3 linked regions of the Homo sapiens genome follow. The protein of the gene in region 2 interacts with the protein of the main gene of each other region in a pairwise test. Each region holds a gene or a part of one and is shown on either strand. Other genes may lie near its edges.

Region 1 (3,500 bases), on a different chromosome or scaffold from region 2:
GTGGTGTGATCTTGGCTCACTGCAACCTCCACCTCCCAGGTTCAAGCAATTCTCTTGCCTCAGCCTCCTGGGTAGCTGGGATTACAGGCACGTATCACCATGCCTGGCTAATTTTTTTTTGTATTTTTAGTAGAGACAGGGTTTCACCATGTTGGCCAGGCTGGTCTTGAACTCCTGACCTCAGGTGATCTGCCTGCCTTGGCCTCCCAACATACTGGGATTACAGGCGTGAGCCACCGCACCTGACCTAGAATTTTTTTTTTCATGCTACTTCTTTGCCCTATAACTTATGTAGAAGTATGTGTCTCAATTTCCAAATAATTTGGGATTTTTCAGATACCTTTCTAATTTTAATTTTTTAGTTGACTTCTGTTGTGGTCAAAGAACATTACATAATTGAAATCCTTTGAAAGCCAGCTAATTTTTGTATTTTTAACAGAGACAGGATTTCACCATGCTGGGCAGGCTGGTCTCGAACTCCTGACCTCAAATGATCTGCCCACCTTGGCCTCCCCTCCCTGTAAAGTGCTGGGATTACAGGCATGAGCCACCGCACCCGGCCTTCATTGCAATATTTGGTCTGTTCATATTTAACATAATTAATGATATGGTGGGATTTAGGTTCACCATCTTGCTATTAGTTTTCTGTTTGTTCCTTCTGCTCCTTTGCTGTCTTCTTTTGGACTAATCAGGTATTTTTTAGTATTCCGTTTTTTTCCCCACTCTTGTCTTATTAGCCATGCTTTTTTTTTTTTTTTTTTTTTTGAGACGGAGTCTTGCACTGTTGCCCAGGCTGGAGTACAATTTGCAATGGCATGATCTTGGCTCACTACAACCTCTGCTTCCCAGGTTCAAGCGATTCTCATGCCTCAGCCTCCGCAGTAGCTGGGATTATAGGTGTGCGCCACCACACCCGGCTAATGTTTTTGTATTTTTAGTAGAGACAGGTTTTCACCATTTTGGCCAGGCTGGTCTCGAACCCCTGACCCCAAGTGATCCACCCACCTCGGCCTCCCAAAGTGCTAGGATTACAGGCGTGAGCCACTGCCCCGGCCCCTGTATTTTAAGGATTGTTCTAGTGTGTGCACTCAGTTTCCTTAAGTTATCACAGTGAGCTTCAGATATTACACTATTTGATGTTTAACGTGTGGCTCCACACAAGTGTTCTTCCATTTCCTGCCTTTGTGCTGTTGTCCTTCACTTTGCCTGTGATCTGAGCTTCCCAGCACGTTATTACCTTAGATGCAAACCACTGATGACGTGAAACACGCCTTAAAATATATGTGGAATGTAAAGATGTTGAACTCACAGAAGTAGAGAGTAGAATGGTGGTCAGGCGCTGGGGTGGTCAGGGGAGACGTTGGATACAGAATTTCATTTAGATAGGAGGAATAAGTTCAAAAGATCCGTTTTACAACATGGTGACTACAGTTAATAACAATATAGTCTCAAAAAAATGTGTAGATTTTAAGTGTTCTCACCACAAAAGTCACCCCATATATAGTTACCTCATATAGTTGCCATTTCTGGTAACCTTCATTTTTTTTTTTTTTTGAGACAGAGTCTTGCTCTGTGTCCCAGGCTGGAGTGCAGTGGTGCGATCTCAGCTCACGGCAACCTCTGCCTCCCAGGTTCAAGTGATTCTTGTGCCTCAGCCTCCTGAGTAGCTGAGATTACACCCACCTACTCACCTGGTTAATTTTTGTATTTTTAGTAGAGATGGGGTTTTGCCATGTTGGCCAGGCTGGTCTCGAACTCCTGGCCTCCAGTGACCCTCTCGCCTCAGCCTCCCAAAGTGGCAGGATGACAGGCATGAGCCACCGCGCCTGGCCCAACTATTATTTCTTAATATTTATTTTCTTTCTTTAAAAATTTTTTTTCCATACATATTCTGCTTACGTATATTTCTTTATGTGGATGCAAATTTCTGTCTTGTCATTTCTCCTCTACTGAAGAACTTTAACATTTTTTGCAGTACATGTATGCTGATGGTGATGAATTCTCTGTTTTTGTTTCTCTGAAAATGCTTTTATTTCACTGCGTATAGAATTTTAGGTTGACCTTTTTTCTTTTATCGCTAAAGATGTTCTCTCATTTTCTTCTGTCTTTCATTGATTCTGATGATAAATTACTGATAATAATTATTTTTGGTGGTTTCTTTTTTTTTTTTTGCTTTTAAGATTTCTCATTGTCACTGGCTCTTAACAGTTTGGTTATGATGTGTATTGGTGTGATTTTTTTGTGTATATTTTGCGTGGAACTTGTTGAGCATCTTTGAACTGTTGGTTTATACTTTGCATCGAATTTGGAAAATTTTCAGACAGTTCTTCCAGTATTTTTGTGCTCTCCTTTCTCCTCTTCCTGCTGTCCAGCTCCCTGTGCGTTCCTTAGCTTAGATTTTCTCACAGCTCACCGAGGCTCTGCTTACTTTCTGCAAGCTTTTTTCTTTCTGTACTTCAGTTTGATTTGTTTCTATTACTTTATTTATTTATGAGACAGGTTCAGGCTCTGTGGCCCAGGCTGGAGTGCGGTGGCGCAATCTCCGCTCACCGCAGCCTCTGCCTCCCGGGTTCAAGCCATTCTCCCGCCTCAGCCTTCCAAGTAGCTGGGATTACAGGTGAGCGTCACCACACCCGGCTAAGTTTTGTATTTTTAGTAGAGTCGGGGTTTCAGCCTGTTGGCCAGGCTGGTTTCAAACTCCTGGCCTCAAGTGATCCGCCCAGCTCAGCCTCTCACCTTCCCTTTCCTTCTTTCTTTCCTTCCTTCCTTTCTTCTTTCCTCCCTTCCTCCCTCCCTCCCTCACTTCCTTCCTCCTTCCCTCCCTCCCTCCCTTCCTCCCTCCCTCCCTTCCTTCCTTCCTTCCTTCTTTTCTCTTTCTGTCTTTTTTTTTTTTTTTTTGAGACGGTCTTGCTTGGTCACCCAGGCTGGAGTGCACTGGTACAATCTTGGCTCACTGCAAGCTCCGCCTCCCAAGTTCAAGCGATTCTCTGCCTCAGCCTCCCAAGTAGCTGGAATTACAGGCACGTGCCACCATGACTGGCTAATTTTGTATTTTTAGTATAGACAGGGTTTCACCGTGTTATGCAGGCTGGTCTCGAACTCCTGGCCTCAGGTGGATCTGCCTGTTTTTGGCCTCCCGATGTGCTGGGATTACAGGCGTGAGCTGCTGTGCCCGGCCCTAAGTTAGTTTTAATCTCCTTTAATACATTTTTCATTTAAGAGATTGTAGGGCTGGGTGCTTTGGCTCATGCCTGTAATCTCAGCACTTTGGAAGGCTGAGGTGGGAGGGTCACTTGAGTAGCCGGGATCACAGGCATGTGCCACCATTCCTTGGTAACCAGCTTTTAAAAAAACATAATCAGTCCTATTTCCCTGCTGAGGGTACATGTCTCATGATTTATTAGCTGTCTGACTTTAGATATAAAGGAAGCGTGGAGAGGGAAATTTCTGTTCTCCCCAGGAGGTGTTCGTTCTGTTTTAGTCCAGGCCAATAGGGCTGG
Region 2 (2,441 bases):
AACAGCTTGCATATAATTTTAAATAAAATACCCCCTCTCTCATCTCCTCCTGGGATTAAGGGAAGATCCTTGGTTATCTCTGCTTGGGCAGTGAGTTGCTGTGTGATCCACTTGTTTGATGCTTCATCCTTCTCTAAGGAGCTGAAAGTCATCTTGCTTTGACAATTGTTGCAAAAGTGTTATATTTTCAAGTTGTTGTTTGTTGGATTATGAACATTTAAAAACTAGTTTGTATAAATGGAATTGGCAAGTTTATCTGCCTAAGATACAATTTCAGAGTAGAAGGTGAATAAGCTCTTTGGTGGCTCCTTCCAGTGTGGTGTGTCCACAGGGTCATTTACTGGGGCTTCCCACTGGCTTACATCCCTCCCGCTCCAGCCTCAAGTTCACCTGCGTGCTGTTCTCTTCCACTAGGAAAACGCTGCCGCGGTCCACAGTGTCGATTCTGGATGACCACATTAGCCACTATCCACAGCTAGAGGATCCCATGGGCTTCTTGAATGCATATATGGGCTTCATCAACTCCTTCTGAGCTGGAAAGAGTAGCTTCCCTGTATTACCTCCCCTACTCCCTTATGTGTTGTGTATTCCACTTAGGAAGAAATGCCCAAAAGAGGTCCTGGCCATCAAACATAATTCTCTCACAAAGTCCACTTTACTCAAATTGGTGAACAGTGTATAGGAAGAAGCCAGCAGGAGCTCTGACTAAGGTTGACATAATAGTCCACCTCCCATTACTTTGATATCTGATCAAATGTATAGACTTGGCTTTGTTTTTTGTGCTATTAGGAAATTCTGATGAGCATTACTATTCACTGATGCAGAAAGACGTTCTTTTGCATAAAAGACTTTTTTTTAACACTTTGGACTTCTCTGAAATATTTAGAAGTGCTAATTTCTGGCCCACCCCCAACAGGAATTCTATAGTAAGGAGGAGGAGAAGGGGGGCTCCTTCCCTCTCCTCGAATGACGTTATGGGCACATGCCTTTTAAAAGTTCTTTAAGCAACACAGAGCTGAGTCCTCTTTGTCATACCTTTGGATTTAGTGTTTCATCAGCTGTTTTTAGTTATAAACATTTTGTTAAAATAGATATTGGTTTAAATGATACAGTATTTTAGGTATGATTTAAGACTATGATTTACCTATACATTATATATATTTTATAAAGATACTAAACCAGCATACCCTTACTCTGCCAGAGTAGTGAAGCTAATTAAACACATTTGGTTTCTGAATAAATTGAACTAAATCCAAACTATTTCCTAAAATCACAGGACATTAAGGACCAATAGCATCTGTGCCAGAGATGTACTGTTATTAGCTGGGAAGACCAATTCTAACAGCAAATAACAGTCTGAGACTCCTCATACCTCAGTGGTTAGAAGCATGTCTCTCTTGAGCTACAGTAGAGGGGAAGGGATTGTTGTGTAGTCAAGTCACCATGCTGAATGTACACTGATTCCTTTATGATGACTGCTTAACTCCCCACTGCCTGTCCCAGAGAGGCTTTCCAATGTAGCTCAGTAATTCCTGTTACTTTACAGACAGGAAAGTTCCAGAAACTTTAAGAACAAACTCTGAAAGACCTATGAGCAAATGGTGCTGAATACTTTTTTTTTAAAGCCACATTTCATTGTCTTAGTCAAAGCAGGATTATTAAGTGATTATTTAAAATTCGTTTTTTTAAATTAGCAACTTCAAGTATAACAACTTTGAAACTGGAATAAGTGTTTATTTTCTATTAATAAAAATGAATTGTGACAAAAGTGGACTCTGGCTTCCCCTCCCCCCTCCCCCCCACCCCTCTGGGATAAAAATTTTCCAGCATTGCCAGGAGCTTTCAGGTACACATTAAAGAATAAAATGAAGTTAAGCAGCTGGAGTATAGGATAGTATTTGATTTTCAAGATCACCCAAAGCTGCACTATCGTCCCAAAGCTGACCAAGTAGAATAAAAAGAAAAAAAAAAAAAAACAACCCATGCGCAAAGATAGACATTTGCTTGATCTGCTGGCTCAGGGCCAAATGTTTAATTTGCTTCTCCAAAGTCATTCATCTTCAAAAGTCTGATTCTGGGAAACTGATGCCACTAGCCTAAAAGCCCACTGACCATGTAGTGTGCATCAGTTTCCTCTTGTCCAGTAAGCATTTATCCAACAGAAGCTAAGATAACATCTACAGGTGTTCTCTCTTTACTTCTGACAGTCACCTGCATGGTCACTCCATCGGCTAAGGCCAGCCTGGACCTCACCAATAAATCATAGCCACCTCTGAATATACCTGAGAGAAAAAAGTAAGGAAAACCATATTAAGAACCCAAAACAAGCACTGGATAATGAAATTTATCATGCTATCCCTGCATCTCCTTTCTATTAGTTTAGTTTAGCTTTTCCAGAGACTTGTGGAAACTGAATCCTAAACAAACATAAATTCCAAATA
Region 3 (2,543 bases), on a different chromosome or scaffold from region 2:
ACCAGGAGGACTCATGGGAATCATCTGCCTCACAGGGGTCTTGGGTGTTGGCCAGGTCATCATGGCGACCCTGGAACTGAAATGGTGGGCAAATGATAACATCTTTCGTCTGTATAGACAGACATGGTCTACACTACTGAGCAAAAGACTCACTTAACTACCACATCAAGGAGTCATAGCCCTCCATCCGTTTCCAAATTTGCACCAGTTAAAACCCACAGCCCTGGAATGAAGGAGAGGTCAGGTCCCCTTGAAGAAGGAGGAAGGGTAGGCCTGGTTATGCTACCACAGTTCACACTGAGAATCTTCTACCAGCTCTCCCAGAGGGACCTAAAGACACTGGCCAGGATGTGTCTACCTGAAGGAGGGAATAGTCAGGCTTTGGGGGAAATTCTGGATCCTTTTCTGCAGGGACCCCCATTCCGAGAGGCCTAACATGGGGCTTGGTCCACTATTCTCAGCAAAGGCCTGTGGAAATCAGGGAACAATGGATTTCTCACTCAGGTCTGACTGAGTGGGCCTGATACATCCCAAACCTACACATTGTCATTTATTAAAGTTTGAAAGCATCATTGAATCGACACACTCAGCAAATGGAAGCAGCCGCATATTCTACACTCCTGGACCCAGGGAGTGTGGGCCATTATGGTGGCAAAGGTGCAGGGGAGTCCTAGACCTGCTTCTCCCTGTGAAAACGGTGGAGGAAGCAGTGCCAGGCTCCTGGAGAAATGGAAGGGTGCAGGGAGGGCATCCGGGCACTCAGAGGTATTGCTGACGGCCCGAGGCTTAGCTGGCCGGGGCGTGCACATGAGACGTGGACTCACAGCTCAGGGCGTCCATGTCCGTCAGGTTCACATGTGACACATGAGGATCGGGCACAGGGAAAAGGCTGAAGGAGGCTCACAAAGGATTCCAGGAGATGTGGAGAGAGCAGCCCGGGAGGGAGTGGTCAGGAGGTCATTCCAGTCCCCCAGAGGGGCTCTGTTGCAGCACAGGGCCTTGATGGACAGCAGATGCTACTGGTTCTCACCCTTGGGCCAATTCTGCCTGCTTCTAGAGCTTCTCTGAGGTCTGTTCACCCAGAGGACGGCACCCAGCATGCTCAGGAGCAGGGGCAGCTCCAAGAGGACCAGGAGCAGGAAGCGGACATTGCTGAACAGGGAGCTGTGGGGACACGGTGACAGGCAGTGAGTCACCTCCCCAGGGGAGGCCCAGGTGCCCTCCACCATCCCCTGACCCTTGTGTCCCAATCCTGTGACCACAGCCAACCACATAAGCACCCCCCTGGACAGTCCATCCCGTCTCAGCATCACGGCCCCTAACCCTCAGCCTCGGATTTACCCTTGACCTGAGGACTGTGACACAGGAAGGGCAGGACCATGAGAGGACGTGAGGTCACGCCAGGGATCCAGGCAGGGTCTGTGTCCAGGACGCAGCTGTCTACCTCTGTGCTCCCCATGGAGGGTTACCCAGCTGGGGTCCCGGAATTCACAAAGGGTTATTTGTTTGGTGTCAACTCTCCTGTACACAGCGTTTCCAGGAGGGCAGGGACCATTTGTTTCATTCACAGTGAGTACCTGCTGCCTACCCGGAGTCTCCAATAATCTGCCCTACAACTTCAGTGGTTGTTGAAGGAATTAATGAATGGACAGCTCAGCTCTCAGCTCCTCAGAGGACTGGGCTTATCAAACAGGATGAAACTCTGGCCAGGGCTGCGAGAGAGGCAGGGGAGAGGACCAGGGCCACCGGACCCCAGAGCATCTGCCCCCTTCCCTGGCCTGGCCAGGTCCCAAGGCTCCTCGCAGGACATTTGCCTCACTCCTCCCTCCACCTGGACCCTTCTTCCTCCAGACCCCAGAGTGCCCAGCCCCCAACCCTTGAGGTCTCTGTGCTCATGTCCTCTAATTCTCAAACCCTCTTCTGATCATCGTCAGTGAAATAGCAACTCCAACACCTGCACACGCTCTCCCCAAACCCAAGAGTCAAACATCTCATCCCAGCATTCATTACCCTTTGCTGTATTTGTACATCAGCCTCTGTGCTGACTTGCTCAATGCGTGAATCCACGCAGTAGAACTCAACTTCCACCAGGGCAGGACAGTGGCTGTGTGGTTCCCTGCTGTGACCCAATCCCAAAAGGAGCGCCTGACACTTAATAGAACCTTCACGTTTGGTGTGGGAGGTGCGAACAAAGAAGGGACTGGAAGAAGGGACATCCGAGTCCCCTAAACATCACACGCAGTGGGGAGGCCGCCAGCGTGGCCCAGTCCTATGCGCAGGCACCTTACCCAGGGTGTGGGCTGGGTTCGGGGCTGTCCTTTCTGGTCACGCTGGGCCAGGTGTGCACGGGCAGCTTCGTGGGAGGACCTGAGGTGCCCATGGAGCTCTGGGGGCTGGAGGCTGTGGTCGTCCCGGCTGTGGGTGAAACACAGGTCAACCTTGATGACATCACATGGGTCTCCCACTTACTCTCACCTGTTCTGCTCCAATTTTCACAGACAAGGTCACCAATGATGTGCTGGACAGATGCCCTGCATCCATCA

Evidence for each region. Proteins that work in one complex are often made in the same cells at the same time.
Region 1: the proteins of MEST (region 2) and ING5 interact in a two-hybrid assay, tested with the Homo sapiens proteins (one large-scale study listed by BioGRID and IntAct).
Region 3: the proteins of MEST (region 2) and CD300C interact in a two-hybrid assay, tested with the Homo sapiens proteins (one large-scale study listed by BioGRID and IntAct).

Annotation. Positions count from the first base shown.
Region 1 is NC_000002.12:241,715,539-241,719,038, forward strand, and holds part of ING5 (inhibitor of growth protein 5), read left to right. Parts: intron 1-3,500. UniProt on the Homo sapiens protein: Component of the HBO1 complex, which specifically mediates acetylation of histone H3 at 'Lys-14' (H3K14ac) and, to a lower extent, acetylation of histone H4. Component of the MOZ/MORF complex which has a histone H3 acetyltransferase activity.
Region 2 is NC_000007.14:130,504,525-130,506,965, forward strand, and holds the end of MEST (mesoderm-specific transcript homolog protein), read left to right. Parts: intron 1-414; coding exon 415-532; 3' UTR 533-1,941; downstream 1,942-2,441. Other genes in the region: COPG2 (coatomer subunit gamma-2), read right to left, coding at 2,152-2,282.
Region 3 is NC_000017.11:74,540,573-74,543,115, forward strand, and holds the end of CD300C (CMRF35-like molecule 6 precursor), read right to left. Parts: intron 2,416-2,543; coding exon 2,289-2,415; intron 1,165-2,288; coding exon 1,017-1,164; 3' UTR 501-1,016; downstream 1-500.